4 linked regions of the Homo sapiens genome follow. The gene in region 1 interacts genetically with each later gene. Each region holds a gene or a part of one and is shown on either strand. Other genes may lie near its edges.

Region 1 (4,966 bases):
ACCACTGATTAGGTGGGCCTCCAGAGACTCACACCTAGGCCTGACTACCACCAAAGCCTGTGCGCATCTATGAGGCCACCCTGGCCTTCTGCCCTCCTTAGCTTTCCATGGATGGAAACTGTCGGCCAGTGTGTGATATTCTTCTGGCTCTGTGTTACAGCCCTCTGTATTGATTTCTTACAGAGTTGGGATTTTGGGGGAATTCTAAAAGGTTCAACAAATTCTTAGATTTCTCTTAGTCATTTTCTTAAAGCATTTTATAATCTTGTACTTGGAGTGTGTCAGCACTAAATTATGTTTTGTTTAAATGTACTGAATTTGAGGACATTTCTCAGTTTAATCATGTCACGGAATTGGAATTGGTTAGTACAAGCTGCAATATCTGTAGCAATCTGCCCATTTCTCCCTCGCACAAGGCTGAGTGAGGACAGAGCTTAGTGTCAAGATGTTGGTAAATAATACCACTATGTAGGAATGTAGTCTGGTGAGATGCTGTTTTTCCCAGCAGGTTTAACTGACTGAATACTTAAGGTGCCCAGATTGAAATGCAAAGCTCCAGTTATCCCATATGGAGACTACACTAGAAAGCCCCAGCAGCTTTATTTATTTACATTTATTTATTTATCTATCTATTTATTTATTTATTTTTTGGGACGGAGTCTTGCTCTGTTCCCTAGGCTGGAGTACAGTGACGCAGTCATCTCGGCTTACTGCAACCTCTGCCTCCTGGGTTCAAGCGATTCTCCTGCCTCAGCCTCCCGAGTAGCTGGGATTACAGGCACCCACCACCATGCCTGGCTAATTTTTGTAGTAGACAGGGGTTTTCACCATGTTTGTCAGGCTGGTCTCGAACTCCTGACTTCAGGTGATCCACCTGCCTTGGCCTCCCAAAGTGCTGGGATTACAAGCATAAGCCACCACCCCTGGCCTATTTACATTTAATTATGATTTATTTTTCCTATCCTTCTGCAAGCATATATATATATATATATATATATATATATATATATATACACACACACACACACACACACAAAATATCAAAATATATATATATATGTATATATATATATATTTTTTTTTTTTTTTGAGACTGAGTCTCGCTCTGTTGCCCAGGCTGGAGTGCAGTGGCACGATCTCTGCTCACTGCAAGCTCTGCCTCCCGGGTTCACTCCATTCTCCTGACTCAGCCTCCCGAGTAGCTTGGACTACAGGCGCCCACCACCACGCCCAGCTAATTTTTTGTATTTTTAGTAGAGACGGGGTTTCACCGTGTTAGCCAGGATGGTCTCGATCTCCTGACCTTGTGATCCGCACGCCTTGGCCTCCCAAAGTGCTGGGATTATAGGCGTGAGTCACCGCGCCCGGCCCAAAAAATCTTTGTGTTTTTTTGTTTGTTTGTTTTGTGTTCAGAGAAGGGATCTGGCTAGGTGCCCTGGCTCATGCCTGTAGTCCCAGCACTTTGGGAGGCCAAACCGAGAGGTTGCTTTTCAGGAGTTTGAGACCAGCCTGGGCAACATGGTGAAATCTCGTCTCTACAGAAAATACAAAAATTAGCCGGGCATGGTTGGCGCACACCTGTGGTCCCAGCTACTCAGGAGGCTGATGTGGAAGGATCGCTTGAGCCTGGGAGGTGGAGGCTGCAGTGAGCTGAAATTGCAACACTGCACTCCAACCTGGGTGACAGAGCAATACCCTATCTCAAAAAAAAGAGAGACAGAGTCTCGCTGTGTTGCCCAGGCTGTTCTCAAACTCCTGACCTCAAGTGACCCTCCCACCTTGGCCTCACAATGCACTGGGATTACAGGCATGAGCCACCACAACCGGTCTCAGCAGCTTTCTGTTTGTCAGATATACAAATATACCCCAGGCTCCAGGCCCCCACATCCCCCAAAAAACACACACACACACACACACACAGCATCAGAGACCTGAGAAGGACATCTTGGTGGAGGTTTGGGGGAATGGAGATGGTTCCTTTTATTTTTTTATAGTGGTGGTGTGGTGGTTTTTGTTGTTTTGGTGTCTAAATCAGAGCATCACATGGCCTTGAAGGTTTGGAAAGGAGGGGCCATAGTTCAAGAACAAGCAGTAGCTTCTTGGGAACGTATTGGAGAGAGAAAAGAGAAAAGAATATGGACAATGTAGAGAATTGTAGGTCTGAAACTATCTGGGACAAAGCTGAGGCTCCTGACTTCTATAGGGACCAGTCATATGAAAAAGAAGGGAGTCGTGAGAGATGATGGGGTAGTTGTGGGTTAAGTTGGGTTTTGGAAAGCCTTTGGGAAGATTGACCAGGGAAGAGGCCCTGGAAGTAGGCTTGAGACCCTTTGGGCTGGGAATTTAAGGGTCCCAGCTACTTGGAACATGATCTAGAAAGGGAAGCGAGGTCTCCAGGTGGACAAATCCCTTTGGACCCAAGACTCCTTGCCCAGAGAAAAGGGGCACAACCAGACAAGGGCTAGCATGGGCCCTGGGAAGCACGGAGTTCAGGGTGGGGCAGGCTTGCTGTGTCCTGGCCTGGCAACATACCTGCACTGTGTTGTGGTAGAAGAACACAAAGCTGGGAGGCAGAGAACTGGTTCTAATCCTAGCTGTACCCTGACAAGCTGTGTGACCTTGGCCAAGTTACTTTCCTCTCCTGGACTTCATATATGGTTTTTCCATTCTTTGCATCCCTGAAGCTCCATGACTTAGGGGCCATCAACTTGGTTGTCCCTGAGTGTTTCCAAGAATACCAACAGTGCCCAGGGTTTTACTCAGCTTGGAGAGGAGGCCTAGAGCCTCCCTGTGGTGAGGAGGAAAGAGGTTAGAGCAAGTTTGGGTCTGCAGTGCTAGGATTAGAGGTGGCCTCACAAGCCAAAACCGCTATACTCACAGCCTTAGGACAGTGACTCCCTACTCGCTGCCTCAGTGTTTCCAGCTGTAAAAAAGGACCCTTGGTACCTTCGACAGAACAGCACCCATCTAGTACAAAGGTAGTTCCTTTTATGATCAAAACAATCAGGAAAAAGAGAGAGGCTGGGTGCGGTGGCTCACACCTGTAATCCCAGCACTTTGGGAGGCTGAGGTGGGTGGATCACCTAAGGTCAGGAGTTCGAGACCCACCTATCAATATGGTGAAACCCTGTCTCTACTAAAATTACAAAAATTAGCCGGGCATGGTGCCGTGCACCTATAGTCCCAGCTACTCAGGAGGCTGAGGCGGGAGAATCGCTTGAACCCAGGAGGCAGAGGTTGAAGTAAGACAAGTTCGCGCCACTGCACTCCATCCAGCGTGGGCGATAGAGGAAGACTCCGTCTCAAAAAGAAAAAAGAAAGAAAATGAGAGAAAGGGCCTGGAGGTGAGTGTGAGGAGGGAAAAGAACATCAAACAGATAAAGTCCTGTCCTGTTGTCCTGGGACCTTGGGCAGCCATCTTGGCCCAGATGATCCCCACAAGAAAGAGGTAAGGGTTTCCTGACCCATTTCTGCCATGGTCTTAGGAAAGTCATTGAGTTTTCATGCCTTAGTTTCTTAAGCAAGTTTGAAAGTTCACTTTTTGGATAGCAATAAAATTACTCCTTTTCTTTTGTTCACAGAGATGCTGCAATTTGTCAGTAATCAAGTGGGAGAGTTCCCTGACTTGTTTTCAGAACAGCTGTGTAGCTCCTTTCCTGGCAGTGGTGGTAGTGGTAGCAGCAGCGGCAGCAGTGGCAGCAGCAGCAGCAGCAGCAATGGCAGGGGCAGCAGCAGCGGAGCTGTGGACCCTTCAGTGCAACGGTCATTCACCCAGGTCACATTACCTTCCTTCTCTCCCTCGGCGGCCTCCCCACAGGCTCCAACTCTGCAAGTCAAGGTTTCTCCCACCTCAGTTCCCACCACACCCAGGGCAACTCCTATTCTTCAGCCCCGCCCCCAGCCCCAGCCTCAACCTCAAACTCAGCTGCAACAACAGACGGTAATGATCACGCCAACATTCAGCACCACTCCGCAGACGAGGATCATCCAGCAGCCTTTGATATACCAGAATGCAGCTACTAGCTTTCAAGGTGATTCAGAAGTTAGAATGGTAGTGGTTGGTTGGTTCCAATGTTTATGTGCCAGTTTGCAGACACTGTAAATATTTCTGTCGTCTTCAGGAATGGCAGGTATATCAATATGGTCCTGTCTGAATGAGGTTCTGGTAACTGGCAATAAGAACTGGTACAGGAGCATGTCACATTCTGCAGCTTCAAATACCTTAATATCTATTGCGCCTAATTCAAAAATACTTGGTTAAAAAATCCAGCAAGCGGCCGGGCGCGGTGGCTCACGCCTGTAATCCCAGCACTTTGGGAGGCCAAGGCGGGCGGATCACGAGGTCAGGAGATTGAGACCATCCTGGCTAACTCAGTGAAACCCCATCTCTACTAAAAAATAGAAAAAATTAGCCGGGCATGGTGGCGGGCGCCTGTAGTCCCAGCTACTCGGGAGGCTGAGGCAGGAGAATGGCGTGAACCCGGGAGGCAGAGCTTGCAGTGAGCAGAGATCGTGCCACTGCACTCCAGCCTAGGCAACAGAGCGAGACTCCCATCTTAAAAAGAAAAAAAAAAATCCAGCAAGCATAGTAGACACAGGGCCATTCTGATAACTAGTGGTGGAGACTTGAATAAGGCTTGAAATTGGCTAGGCGGCAGCCAGATCTCAGCTGCCACAGTTGAGAACTATTCATTCAGCAAACATCTGAGCATCCACTATGGTGATGAATATGACTTTTAATATAGGTGCAGCAGCTTCAAGTAGCAAGCCTCATGCTGGGCCCTTAGTATGTGTTGAGGGAATGGATGACTGAAAGGGGCCTGTTCTTTCTGTGATGTGCTGCATCCCAGTGCCTTTTCATCATATTTCCCTCTGACTCTGTGGGGAGCCCAGGGTAAGATTAGTATTGCTTTGAATTTCAAAGAATCTTATAGTTCTTCAATGGAGTTCAAGAATTGGGACAGGT
Region 2 (4,966 bases), on another chromosome or scaffold:
TGACCGCTTAGACCAAAGTAGCAGCCCATCATGCTTTCATCCCATCACCCTGTTTTGCTGCATGTGTTTCTATTCAATCTGTTCAAATTGTCTTCCCCCATTAGGATGGCAGCTTCCTTTTTTTTTTTTTTTTGAGATAGAGTTTCACTCTTTTCGCCCAGGCTGGAGTGCAGTGGTGCGATCTTGGCTCGCTGCAAACTCCACCTCCCGGGTTGAAGTGATTCTCCTGCCTCGGCCTCTCAAGTAGCTGGGACTACAGGCGCCTGCCACCACACCTGGCTAATTTTGTATTTTTAGTAGAGATAGGGTTTCACCACGTTGGCCAGGCTGGTTTTGAACTCCTGACCTCAGGTGATCTGCCTGCCTCGGCCTCCCAAAGTGCTGGGATTACAGGCATGAGCCACAGCGCCCAGCCAGGATGTCAGCTTTTGAGAGCAGAAGCTGCATCTGTTTTTGTTTGTCGCTGAATCCCCAGGGCTTAGAAGACTGCTTGGCACATTCCCTAAATGTTTACTGAATGAATAATTAGCAACCTGACATTTTGCACAAATTTTTCCTTGTAGGACTTCTTGAAACTGATTTGTCTGCTGTTATATCTGACCTATTTCCTGCTTATAGTTTATATTCTCCATTAAGATTCTGAGACAAAAAAATCCCCATGTACTGTCAGTTCTTATACTTTTCATTTTCCAAAGCATTTTCATTGGACTATATAAAAGCCTTCATTGTTCCTTAGACTGTGTGTGCGTTTCTTTTGAAGTTTAAAGTATTATTTGTGGTAAACATGGCAGAGGCGGCCCTGGACACGTAAATAAGCGTTTCTTGTGCGAGATTCCCAGGATTTCTCCCCAACATGGGCTTATTTCCACAATAGAAAAGGCACTTTGCCTTTTCATGTGGTTTGAGTATTTGGCAGTGATGTTATTACAGAGTGTATGGTTGCGATTGTATCTAAAACAAAATTGAAGCAAGAACAAAGATGGGGTTGTGTGAGTGTGTGTATGTGTCTGAGATTTTAATGACTGGTTTGCTTATGATTGGAAAGAAGAAAATTCCTATTTATTTCAGCTATTTACTAGATTAAGCAACTTTCAGCATTTCTCTGGCACTTTCTATTTCAGTTATTAATGTCTTTGAAAATTTGATATTTGAAGGGGAACCGGATACTCTTTTTTTTTTGAGGCAGAGTCTTGCTCTGTCGCCCAGGCTGGAGTGCAGTGGCATGATCTCGGCTCACCACAACCTCCGCCTCCCAGGTTCAAGTGATCTCCTGCCTCAGCCTCCTGAGTAGTTGGGATTACAGGCATGTACCACCAGGCCCAGCTAATTTTTGTATTTTTAGTAAAGACAGAGTTTCACCATATTGGCCAGACCAGTCTGAAACTCCCAACCTCAGGTGATCCACCCACCTTGGCCTCCCAAAGTGTTGGGGATTACAGGCATGAGCCACCGCACCCATCCAGATACGCTTAACTATGAGATGTTTCAGAAACCAAAAGTTTTCTCCCACTTATCAACCTTAGCCTAAACCATCTATGAGGAGTGGGAGGGAGATGGGGGAGTTGTACATATGGTGTTTTGTTTTATTATGCCTGTTGTATGCCTTAGGGGATATTTTACTTCTATTGTTTACTATTTATTGCCTAGTTTGTTTTCTTCTGTGCCTCTCGCATAAATTTCATGAGGACAGTGATTTTATTTGACTTGATTTTTGGTTGGGGGAATTATTTTTTCAAGTTCTTTTTAAAACGGGCTTTATTTTTTTAGAGTAGTTACAGGTTTACAGAAAAAATACACGGTGATTATAGGGAATTTCCATATACCCCGCTTCCCCGCAGTTTCTCCTGTTAACATCATGCATTAGTGTGGTGTATTTGTTACAACTGATGAACCGATTTTGATTCATTATTAACCAAGGTTCATAGTTTAACATTCATTCTTTGTGTTGTACATTCTGTGTATTTGGAAAAATGCACAGTGGCATGTCTCCCCCATTACAGTATCATGCAGAATAGTTTCAATGCCCTAAAACTCCCTTGTGCTCCTCCGCCTCATCCCTCCTTTCCCTTCTCCCCAACCCTTTGCAACCACTGTTATCTTTTTCTCTTTTCTTTTTTTTTTTTTTGGAATGGAGTCTTGCTATGTTGTCTGAGCTGGTTTTGATATCCTGGGACTCAAGCAGTCCTTCCGCCTTGGCCTCTCAAGTAGCTGGGATTACAGGCATGCACCACCATGCCCAGCTGTTTTTACTGACTCTGTACCCATTTCCAGAATGTCAGATAGTTGGGATCATACAGTATGGAGCCCTTTTAGGCACTTTCAGTTAACAACATGCATTAAGTTTCTTCCACATCTTTTTGTGGGTTGGTAGCTTATTTCTTAATGCTGAATAATATTTCACTGTGTATGAATGTACCACAGTTTATCCATGGACATATTGAAGGGCATCAAAACTTCAAGGACAGTTTTTGGTAGTTTATGAACAAAATTGCTATAATCATTTGTGTGCAAGTTTTCAACTCATTTTGATAAATACCTAATATTTTCTTTTATTGTATACTATTTATTGCCTATTTTTTATTTGCCTCCCCAGTAAGCTCCATAAGGACAGTGACTTTTTTTTAAGAGGGTTGCAGGGACGGTTTTTTTCACTGATGTATCCTGAATACCTAGAACAGTGCTTAACATCGTAGTAGGCAACTCAGTAAATATTTGGCAAGGTCTTTAAAAACTATCTTAACCCATGAAGGACATGAAATTACACATTTTTGTTTTTTGGGTTTTTTTTTTTTTTTTTTGAGACGGAGTCTCGCTCTTGTTGGCCAGGCTGGAGTGCAGTGGCGCGGTTTCGGCTCACTACAACCTCCACCTTCCAGGTTCAAGCGATTCTCCTGCCTCAGCCTCCCTAGTAGCTGGGATTACATGCGCCCGCCACCACACCCAGCTAATTTTTGTGTTTTTAGTAGAGACGGGGGTTTCACCATGTTGACCAGGCTGATCTCGAACTCCTGACCTTGTGATCCACCCACCTCGGCCTCCCAAAGTGCTGGGGTCATGGGGGTGAGCCATTGTACCCGGCTCATTTTTGTTTTTAATTAGTGCTGGCCCACCATTTCTTTCTGTGTGCTGAACTTCTTATGTTTATTCACAAGAGATACTAGCTCCTAAAAAAATCTGCCAGTGTTGAGAAACTAGGTAATGGAAAACTCTGAAGTTGCAGTCTCCTTTTAACTACAGTTCTGCTTTAGGCAGAGTCTGTTGAGTTTGCCATCAAAGAAGAAAGAAAAAACACATTATTTCTTCTCTTCTTCCACCCACAGCTGTTGCTTTAGCTTGTAATATAATTTCTTACATCGATAGGGTTTATAACTTTAATTTTGTACTGTCTCTGTGATTACCTCAATTGTTTAATCTTAGTTCTGTATTTACATGAATTCCTGACTGATCACTAGTCTTGTCATAGTTTCTCCCATCCCTAAATCTCTTATTGTGGATTTATTTCTAGACTGGCTGGTTCTGGTCCTCCAGTCGTGTGTGTGTGTGTGTGTGTGTGTGTGTGTGTGTGTGTGTGTGTTCATGTACATGTGCATTTTTTTTAAAGATGGGCTCAGGCTCAGTTGCTTTGTTCTTTATCATCAAGATTTTATGTTTGTGTGTATCTGTTTGGCTCTTAATTATACTTAAAACATTTGTTTAGTCATGTTATTTTTTTGAGAAGTGTGCATACATCTGACCTTACTGATCCTGCTTAGTAATGTGCATGTATATTTTTACATTTAGTTCTAAATGGAGCCCCTGGATTTATAAACTTGTGCGATGCTTTGAACGCCTGGCAGCTGGTGAAGGAACTCAAGGAGGCTTTAGGTATTCCAGCCGCTGCCTCTTTCAAACATGTCAGCCCAGCAGGTAAAGCTCTGTGCTCTGGAAAGCTCCAGAATTGTTCGAAAGGCATTTCTTCTTAAATTTTTTTGAATATTAACAAGTTCTAATGTGAATATAGACATGCTATGAAATCTGAAAGTCATCTGTTGATAACAGTATCAATGTAATAATATAAAATCTGATACACACACACACACAGAATTGTGTAATATTGTCAGGAAAATGAGGCAGGAATTTGTTTGTGGGGTGGAACCATAAAAGTTTAGAAAATAAAAGTGAAATGTCCTAATGCAATAGACTAAGTCTTGTGCCACATCTTTGAAAATGTAATGGAGTAAACATAAAGAAGTTCTTCTTTGGACTCTTTATCTGAAACTTCTTATAGTCGTTGTATGAGATACTTTGCTTCTGTGTTTAAATCATGAACTCCGCAATTGAGTTGTCTGTACACCACATCTTGCTGACAGTCCTCCAGCACATGATTTGTTCTCAGGTGTTTATTGGGTGTTAAAGTGATGTGAGTGGGGAAGAAATAAATGATGTGTGATATCAAAGTGATATCAAGCAGAACAGAGAGAAAGAGTGAGTCAGTAATGAAGTAAACGAGCTTCACCTACACGCTGGGTACTGTCAGGCTTCAGTGGCTCTGTGGTTTTGGAGGGCAGAGAGGAGATTTCCCTCACACTGCTCCCACAACCATATTTTTAGTGTATAATTATCTGGCTAAATAGATTTCTGTTTAATTTAGCACAGGCACTAGAAAATGTGCTGCGTAGACTGGGTGTTAAGAAAACTGTCTTGATTTAGGAGTTGACAGGTAGTAACTTTAGCTTTCTTTGTTTATGATTTTACTATTTTCTAACCAGGTGCTGCTGTTGGAATTCCACTCAGTGAAGATGAGGCCAAAGTCTGCATGGTTTATGATCTCTATAAAACCCTCACACCCATCTCAGCGGCATATGCAAGAGCAAGAGGTCAGACTCATAGGGCTTTTTGATTTGGGGGAGAAAGAAAAAGCAATATTTTATCCTAAATAGAATAAAGAGGATAGAATAAAGAAAAAATATATAGATATTCTGTATAA
Region 3 (4,122 bases), on another chromosome or scaffold:
GAACAGAATCTGTCCTTCACTGTAAGAGCTACAGCTTTCAAATGAGCTCACTGGAAATTCATTCTAATCCCCAAGCTGGAGAAACAGGTTAAGAGATCCTGTTTCATATGCTGTATTTAAAAAGCAACAATGATAACAACATAGTAACTGCGTTACCCAATGGACTTTATTTTCATCATATGATTTCAATTCTCTTTATAGAGTTTTATTTCATATCCGGTGTGGCTTGTTCTTTTCAGCAGTTTGGGAAGTTAGTTATTAGAGTTGATAGTGAATTGAATTTTCATTAAACAGTCACGGTTAGAAGAAGCTAATATTTGAAACAGATTTTAAAAACTTGAAAAATTACAGGTGAGATTTCTGTTTATGCCAGATTATTGAAGATAAATATAAATGTATGTTGGTGTGTGAAATGCTCTGTGCCTTAGAAGCGTGACAGTTCAGCTCTCTGCTGTGGAAAGTAACACAGGGCAATAGAAACATATTTGTGGAATTTTAGAACAAACTATTGCTGACTCATGAGCACTATAATAACCATCAGGAAGCTCCCAACTGAAGCAATGTAACAGTGTAATCTAGTTCAATTCAGCAAACATTCATGGAGTTCTTCATGTCTGTCAAGCCTTGAGGACACCCACGAATGGCAAATCTCCACGCTAGACACTCAATACAGGTAAATAGGCCACCAGTTAATATTCTTGTTTTTATTTTCTTCAAGTTAGCTAAAAATGAGATGCGTATGAAGTGAGGAGGCTGGATCCAAGTCTTGATTGCCTTTCAGGGGGTCAAGGTGGTAAGCTGTGCAGTGAAGTCAACCAGTGGCCATGGCTTACATGTTTGTCTCTTTGAGATCGCCACCAGAACCATTTGTGAACTGATTTGTGAAGGAAAAGTCAGTCTTACTCCAAAGACTATTGCAGGGAGGAACTTCCAGAGAGGAAATCCAATGACAATGGTACTGGCATACACAGGGAGCCTCCCTTCAAAAAGACAGCGCCCCTAGTCAGGGAGGGGATGGCGGTCCTTTGATAAGACCCATAGGCAAACTTCGAGCCCATCAGCAGGTCAACCCTATGCTGGGAAAGTGAGGATTTGGGATTTCTGTGCTATAAACCTGATTCTAAATGTAGGACCCAAGTTTCTGGACTACTTCAGAATACCTAAATGAATCATGGAAACACTCTTTATGATTTTTTACAACACCAGATATGCAGGTGAATTGTGGAAAATGTCATGTAGCTGACACTCAAGAAATAGGGATTCCTAATAATGGCATGGGTAGGGAACAGATACACCTGGTTAGAAGGTCTAGGGTTCTGTATATGAAGCTGCCAGTCTGTAGCTCTTCGAGAAAGAAAGTTCAAGTCATTTGGGGGAAACTTAAGAATAGTCATCAGGGTTTTAGCTTCTAGGCACCAGCCAAGGATGAGAACTTCTAAAATCTAAAATCCATTTCAAGAAATAAAGACGAACACATTTGCAGGAAGGTAACTGTTATAACCCACACCATCAGCAGGGGGAAAGCCAAGCTGAGAATAAACCCAGAGACAAAGAACCCTCGGACTCAGGCAGGACATGGCAGGATGTTCTGGCACAGCAGACTGGAGACTGAGGCAGGGCCTGTGAGTGGACAGAGCACCCCTGGCTGGGAAGAAGAAGATGGGGTAGGAGGAGGTCAGGTTCCAAGGATGCAGGTCTGGAAAATGATATCGGAGGCCCTGGAGTTTGTGAGCTTGGCTCTAGTCCCAAGAAGGGTGAGGGAGAATAAGGGTAAGGGAGTATTCTAGGCAAGGAACTAAGGAAGGAATCCCCTTCTTAGAGCAGAGGCACAAGTTAGAGCAGGCCCAGCATTTGGGCCAACTTACTGTGGGGCCTCTGAGCTGCTCAGCTGGGTCTCCTGTCCTAGAGGGAAGGTGGCCCAGAGTCTTTGGTGGAGCGGAATCTGTAGATGAGGTTAAGGGACTCCAGTTGCCAAGGTTGATCTGAAACAGGCAGGGAGCTAAGCTCATCAGAACACCAACAGATTCATGTTCTCGTCTTAGCTTTCATCTATTCTGGTCTCAATGGCTTCGGGAAACACACATATACACATACACCATGCCCTTGAACTCAAAGCAAACTACGCTCTCAGGGAAATACAAATATCACGTTCTTATAGCTGTAAAGTATAGCTTAGCTATTTATAGAAGACTATGAGGTACTGTTGTGAGTTATTTGCTTATCCTGTTTTATTCTGAAAAATGAAAGTGCTCAATAGAATTTTTAACGTTGGCAACACCATAAGGATTTCTTATGTTAAGTCCCAACTTGGGGTTGCAAAATCATTTTTTCCCTTAATACCTGGGTGTTGTATTAGATCTCATAATTTGACAAGTTAACCTTTTAGAAATCCACATATATCTCAAATCTGGCTACTGCAAAACCAGTTTTGACAGGTCAGATTTTCATATGTATAGGTATAAATAGCCAACACTCAGTGAACAAAATCCTTTAAGCATTTTGGTTACATAAAGTTGTATGTTTTAAGTGATCAAACTAAGAATATTGTTTATAGGTTTTAAAAACCAAACCAATAAAATTTTTATTTATTCAATAAAATATGCACAGAACAGATGCAAATGTGTTATATACAATCATGAAGTTTTTTTTTTTTTTTTTTGCTGTTTTTAGTTTATATAAATGAGTGGTGTCTGAATAGAAATTAATTTAGAAGGTGGAAATTTAAAACGTTTCATTTGGTTCATGGGACTTTAGATAAGTTCATAGGTTAAAATTCACCAGGTTTGATTTATAGAATGTCAAAGAGTAGACAGATTTTCCCTCCCTAAAGATGCATTGCCTCGCTGAGCAAGCTTTTACCAACCCATATGCAAACTGCGTGACTCTTCTCTTGCCTGGCCTCAGCTCTTCTTACAGGAGACCCCCTTCTAGGTTTTTGATTACAGGTCTGACCTTTTAGCCTGCGTCCACCATTGTTCCTGTGTTGTCTCTGAAGCCCTCCCTGGTCTGTGCTTCTCAAATTGGGGCACGTGTAACTTGGGGTATGAGACTTCCCTTTAATCACTGGAAACCTTGTTATCAATTTAGTTTGTTTTGGTTACAATGCAAGACTCCTGTGTATTTGAAAAGGAAAATCAGAGGCTTTAAAGAAATCTGGGGTTCCATGAATAGCTTCAGACCTTCCCCTCTGGGCATCCCCAGAGGTAGATGTTCTGCCTTAGGACTTCTTGGTGGAAACCCTTGGGAATCACAGACCCAGCTTCCTCACTGGTGGGGAATGTTCTGGAGTGATCTTGGGCCCTGGATCTGAGTGCCAGTGCACCAGCTGTGAGTCAAACGGAGTTTTGACCTTAACTTTGCTGCTGAGCCTTCCAATTTCCCCGCTGGGTCTAAGTGATAATCTCATGTCTGGGCAGTTTGGCCGGGGCCAGGCATCTGCCCAGCTTTTCTTAGTGCCTCCCCCTGCACCAGCTCCTCCCTGCTGGTGTATGGCATCTTCTGGACCAGCTCCTTTTCACTGGACGTGCAGCCTTCATACAGGATCTCAGTTCTCTCCCGCCCTCCATAGGCCCATGCCTTATGTTCCGTTCCTGCATGTGGCCACAGTTGAAAACTCTTTGGTGCTGGGGATGAATCCAGGTCCAGTCCCACCCTCCCCAGTCTCCCCACCATTGGCCTGGCTGCTTACCAGTCACTCTGTTTTTCACTTCCATGTTTGTTTACTGGCACCTGGGGATTTTCCTTTTCTCTTTGCACATTCAGATGTCTGCTTTGTTATTGATTCCCACATGAAACGCTGCCTTGAAACCCATGCCCAACCATCTCTACTCATCTGCCTGGATAGAGAATATGAGACTTCCTGCTTATAAATTCTTTGGGAAAGTTAAAGCTGGGTAGAGGGAAAAGGGGGTGGCCTTTGATGTGTAAGACAACTGGAAATCTCCCTTTGTAACACGAATCCTGGTTCCTCCACGTTTGGCAGTGGAAGGAGAAGCTCCCAGTGGGCACGGAAATTTGGACCTCATAGCCCCAACTCTTCCCTGTAAGGAAAGAGTCCCATACACAACTCTTCATTTAATTTCCTAAGGAACATCAAAGACCAGACTGGAACAGTTAAAACTT
Region 4 (4,966 bases), on another chromosome or scaffold:
TCTTCTAGAAAATTACCCTGGAAAAGTAGTATAAATAGTTTAATCTGCTATTTCTTAAAATTTTGTATTCCTTTACTCATTCAACAAATAAATAGTATTCAGTGCTTCTTTGTGCCAAGCACTGAGGGCTCATTAGTGAGCAAAAGGGATATTAACCACTGTTTTAAAAAAAAAATGTATCTAACATGTACTAAAAGCCAATGGATGTGGTGATGCATGCCTATAGTCCTACCTACTTAGAAGGGTGAGGCAGGAGGATCACTTTGAGCCCAGGGGTTTGAGTTTGTGCTATAATGGTGCCACTGTACTCCAGCCTGGGCAACAGAGCAAGACCCTGTCTCTTAAAAAAGCAAACAAAAAGCCTTTAATGGAACTATTGTTGCTCATAACGGCATACTTTAGAACCCCTGGTCTAGTCTGACTGTGCTTACCTACCTGCTTGCATGCGTTTCTCTTTCTTCCCACCTCTCTTCCCCTCCCTTCCTTCCTTTCTTAATTCTCTTCTGTTTTTTACAACTCTTTTCCTTCTTTGAGTTAGTGACAATAAGCAAATTTTGAACTCATCTAAGATTAGGAGAAAAACTGTATGTGATATTTATTGTATAAAACTTGCATGGTAGAGTTAAACAGGAGATGATAAAATTCTTAATTTACTTTATAAACCAAATGTCATCTCACCTGTCTAGCTCTCAAGGTGGGTATGTTTGTTACTTCTTCCAGAAACCATGTCTCTTTAAATGGGTTTATATCATTCTATTTTAAATAAAATTCGTATGTTTTTATACAAGTGTGCTCTTTAGATGCAAACATTTATATGATTAGATAAATTTTCCTTAGTCTTTCTTTGATTATGTATTGTCTGAATTTGAATCCTGATGTGTTATTCTGGAATTAGCCATTTTTGTTTCTATTTCTGTTTGTTATGTTACAATTAGTGTATTTCTTATTTTTCAGTGCTTTAATTGCCTTGTTATCTAAACTCTAGAATATATACCAGTTAATTAAAGACATGTGTGTTTTTTTTTTTTGCTTTTGTCTTTACTGGCGAATTTAAAGGTAATTGAAAGTATAATTCTTGTCTTCTTTAGCATCAGACAACAGTCAGCGCTTTCGAGAAACCTGTTTTGCATTTGCCTTGACACCACAACAAGTGCAGCAAATCAGTAGTTCCATGTAAGTTGTCGTCAAGTGTAACTTGAAGTTTGACCTTTGAATCCAGTAGTCTATAATAAATGATTTTAAAAAACAGTGATTGGTGAGTTAGTATTTGTGTGATGCAAATATTAGTAATGAAAGTATAGTGTGTTAGTTACTGTAAGAACAGTTATATTTATGATAATTTGAAAAACTTTTCTGGAGTAACAAGGTCTTTGAATGAACTTTCATGCAAATACTTTAAAAGTAATTGTAATTCCTATTCTGTCTCTTCTAGGGATATTTCTGGGACCAAATGTGACTTCACAGTACAGGTCCAGTTAAGGTACAGTGCTGACTATAGGATATATTCAAAGTTTAAAAGATAATATTCCTTTTCACAGTACGGGTCCAGTTAAGGTACAGTGCTGACTGTAGGATATATTCAAAGTTTAAAAGATAATATTCCTTATCAGGAAGGGGAAATGGAAAAAAAATTTTAAGGAATAAGAGGAAATCTACCTGATTTTTCAATAAGTGTATTGAAAATATTAGGTTTAGATATTTGGGTGAGGGAAAACATTCTCCTGTTATGAGATATTCTAATTTTCATCCAATTTAGATTTTTCCCCTGCCCGCCCACCCCCCAGTTTAGATTTCAATATAGCAAGTCATGTTCTATATATCTAACCATATTTGATTGCCCTCAGTTGGTTGAGAAGCTCCAGCTAATGATATCTTACAATATCATATCAAGTTTTATGAAAGCATGGGCCTTATCTCCATAAGAGGCAAAGTACTGTGGATAAGGAATTAGTACTTAAGTCTACAGTATGTCATGGACTAACAAACATCAAAATATTCTAATTTGTTTTGTTCTGTATTTTAAATAATTTAAATATGCTCTAATTTAGGATCCATTTGAGACATCTCTTAAAAATGTTCAAAGACTAATGGGAAATTTTCCAACATGGATTCACAACCCCTTATTGAGTTTCTTTTCTTAGCCCATTCATTTGTCTTAGAATATCTAAGAAATATTTTGTATTATTTCTCTCCCTTATATATCTCCCTTTTATATACATATATATATATATCTCCCTTATATAAACCATCATATTATGCTTTATTATTCGATTTACCAACTTAAATGTCCACACTGTTGGAATAGGGATGGAAGAGAAAATATAAGACAGTTGTTTTCCTCAGTAAGCTGTTTTCCCTATAATTGTCAGGAGGATAAATCAAACAGTTAGCCTTGTCTCAATAATCAGATACTAAGTTGTATGTACAAGTTACAAATACACTAGGAGGCTAAAAAAGGGATTAATCTAAAACGCCTGTTCAGCACTTCATGGAACCATGTGAAAACCTCTCATCTAAGCTTTGAAATAATAAGGTAAAAACAGTGAGAAAGCAGAGTTGAAGTCGAAAGTTGAGTTGAAGATTCTAAAGAGGATATGACTATACTTAATAACTTTTATACCATAAAACAGTATGACAGGACCTTACTGCAGTAGACTAGTGATAATCTAAGTTTCAGTTTTGGAAGGCACTGCTAAAGATGATTCTGTATAAAAGGTATATTTTATGTCGGCCAGATTGTGATAATGACTGAAGAAATTAAAGGACAAAAATAAGATGTCTCCATAGTTAATTATGTATTGCTGTAGTCTTCTTTACTTCCTGCCTCAACAGTTTACATTTTGCTTGTGCTGATACTTGACATTATCCTTTAAATCAGTGGTTTTCAAACTTGTTGCATGGAGCCACCCTTAGGGGTTCATACTCTTCTGCCATCCTCCTCTTCTCTCCTAAACACATACACAGTCTGAACCAAAGTGGGGCTTCTTTTATCTCTTTTATCTGTTTTGCATGTTTGACTCTGGGTTAATTTTTGCTTAAAGACAGGGTCCCAAGACTAAAATAAAGTTTAAAAACCGTAGCTTTAGAATAAAAGATCTAGTTACTAAGTATTTTGTATTAATATACATACATTCTTTAAAGCAGCAACAGGTGTGGTCCACATTTTGAAGTAAGGTTGTCTAGATAGATGAGCTATAATTCAGAGATTCCAAGGGTATCTTGATGACTGCTATTTTAATTGAAATGTATCTCCAGGACTTGGAAAAAAAAAAAAAAAAAGAACCATGTTGTGTTATATTTGGTAATTGTTAGGTGGTTCTTTGTGTTTTAATAAAACAGTTCATCTCTCTCCCTGCCCCACGTTGCTAGGTCTGCAACCATAGTGTATTATTTAAGTTAGGAGTGTATGCCTATCTGCTATCCTAATTAGAAATGTTTATCTAAAGCATAAAAATAATTAGTTGAGAATTAGGATCCAAGTTTTCTTTATTAGACACCTAGTCTGTTTTCATTTATGTTGTGCCTCCCTGCTCCACTCCCTCCTCTCTGCCCCATGAACCACTTCACAGAAACTTTCTGCTATTCCTTTTTTTCTTTTTTCTCTTCAGTTCATTAGGGTGATTTAGATTAGTTGAATAGACACTGTCTTGTCATTTAAATTACTCTTTTCCTATAGGAAAGGGTTCAGGCAGCCAGGGTCCATGTTTTAAATTGATCACTGCATTGGAATAATTATTTAAAAACTGTGACATCCTTTTAACTATTGCAGCCTAAAGAATTAGCCTGTAATGGAAGGTTCTGCTGGGGTTAGGAGTGGTCCTGTGAGCTTTGACATCTGTTTGCTAAGTATATTTCTAGAAAATCTTTGTAGATCAGTAAATCTTAACTTTTTTATGGATCCCTGATCCCTTTGAGAATTTGATAGAAGCTGTGAATGGTTTCCCTATAAAACTGAACATGTATATGTACTCAAAATAATTTACATATAAAATTGTTTTATATTGTGCACGATCCCCGTACTCAGATTTCATGGCCAGCAGGTTAAGACCCCATACCGCAGGTGTTGAGAGGAGTTGTTGGCACATGAGGAATATTTCACAGATTTCGGAGATAGGGTTCTCCCTACTATGTAACTCAGGGGTGCTATTAGCATTCTATAACAGTGCAATGAGCCTTAGGTGTATATTGAGAATAGGTACTAATAAAGAATAAATGCCTTAAATAGCAAAATAGTAATAAGAGTGAATAGACTGAGAATTTATGAATTATGTATCTTTCCTTGATTTTTCCAAAAGACTGCATTTAATTTAGAAATATTTTTATAAGTTTCTAAAATAGTATTCTAAATTTATGTGGCTATAACACAAATAATATTCAATATCTTCAGTTCTCAAAAAATAAGGAGTACTTTGGCTTACTGATCCTGGGGATGGACTTAAAAGCATTCTCAGTATTTTCTGCTAAGAACCAGAAAAGTGTTTCATAGGCAAATAAATTTGGAAAATACTGCATACAGGTGGTAGGTCTTCCTCTTAGAGATTTATAATGCTTATTAGCCTATTAAAAGCTCTGAAAAGTTCTGTATTAAGGAAGCTTAATTTAATTGTTTTGATTCAGAATTTCTTAATTTTATTTGACTAACGAGTCTTTTTTTCTTTTAACATCTGTTAATCACTGAAGAAACTAGTGCTTCTCAGAACATGCTTAACCAAATAATTGGCAGTATCACGAAGACAACTACAGGGTGATAGTCATGATTACCACAACTCTACATTGACAGAATTATTTATTTTAAACCTATTTACATATACTTATTAATAGGGTGAAAAGTCCAGTTTTTATAGTTTTCCCTTTTGGTTGTTTTTAAATTTACCATCTTTTAAATTTATCTATTTAACAATAATACTAATGAAGTCATCCTTTAATAAAGGAAATTAAACTTGTCCTTTATTGTTTAGGTTTTGTT

The links. A genetic interaction does not mean that the proteins touch.
Region 2: changes in SREBF2 (region 1) and ATIC together harm fitness less than expected from each alone (positive genetic interaction), as found in Homo sapiens cells (one large-scale study listed by BioGRID).
Region 3: changes in SREBF2 (region 1) and KLHL6 together harm fitness less than expected from each alone (positive genetic interaction), as found in Homo sapiens cells (one large-scale study listed by BioGRID).
Region 4: changes in SREBF2 (region 1) and PIAS1 together harm fitness less than expected from each alone (positive genetic interaction), as found in Homo sapiens cells (one large-scale study listed by BioGRID).

What each region holds. Positions count from the first base shown.
Region 1 is NC_000022.11:41,863,250-41,868,215, forward strand, and holds part of SREBF2 (sterol regulatory element-binding protein 2), read left to right. Parts: intron 1-3,581; coding exon 3,582-4,031; intron 4,032-4,966.
Region 2 is NC_000002.12:215,328,602-215,333,567, forward strand, and holds part of ATIC (bifunctional purine biosynthesis protein ATIC), read left to right. Parts: intron 1-3,780; coding exon 3,781-3,906; intron 3,907-4,748; coding exon 4,749-4,856; intron 4,857-4,966. UniProt on the Homo sapiens protein: Bifunctional enzyme that catalyzes the last two steps of purine biosynthesis.
Region 3 is NC_000003.12:183,486,042-183,490,163, reverse strand, and holds the end of KLHL6 (kelch-like protein 6), read left to right. Parts: 3' UTR 1-2,613; downstream 2,614-4,122. UniProt on the Homo sapiens protein: Involved in B-lymphocyte antigen receptor signaling and germinal center formation.
Region 4 is NC_000015.10:68,140,858-68,145,823, forward strand, and holds part of PIAS1 (E3 SUMO-protein ligase PIAS1), read left to right. Parts: intron 1-1,088; coding exon 1,089-1,173; intron 1,174-1,432; coding exon 1,433-1,480; intron 1,481-4,958; coding exon 4,959-4,966. UniProt on the Homo sapiens protein: Functions as an E3-type small ubiquitin-like modifier (SUMO) ligase, stabilizing the interaction between UBE2I and the substrate, and as a SUMO-tethering factor. Catalyzes sumoylation of various proteins, such as CEBPB, MRE11, MTA1, PTK2 and PML.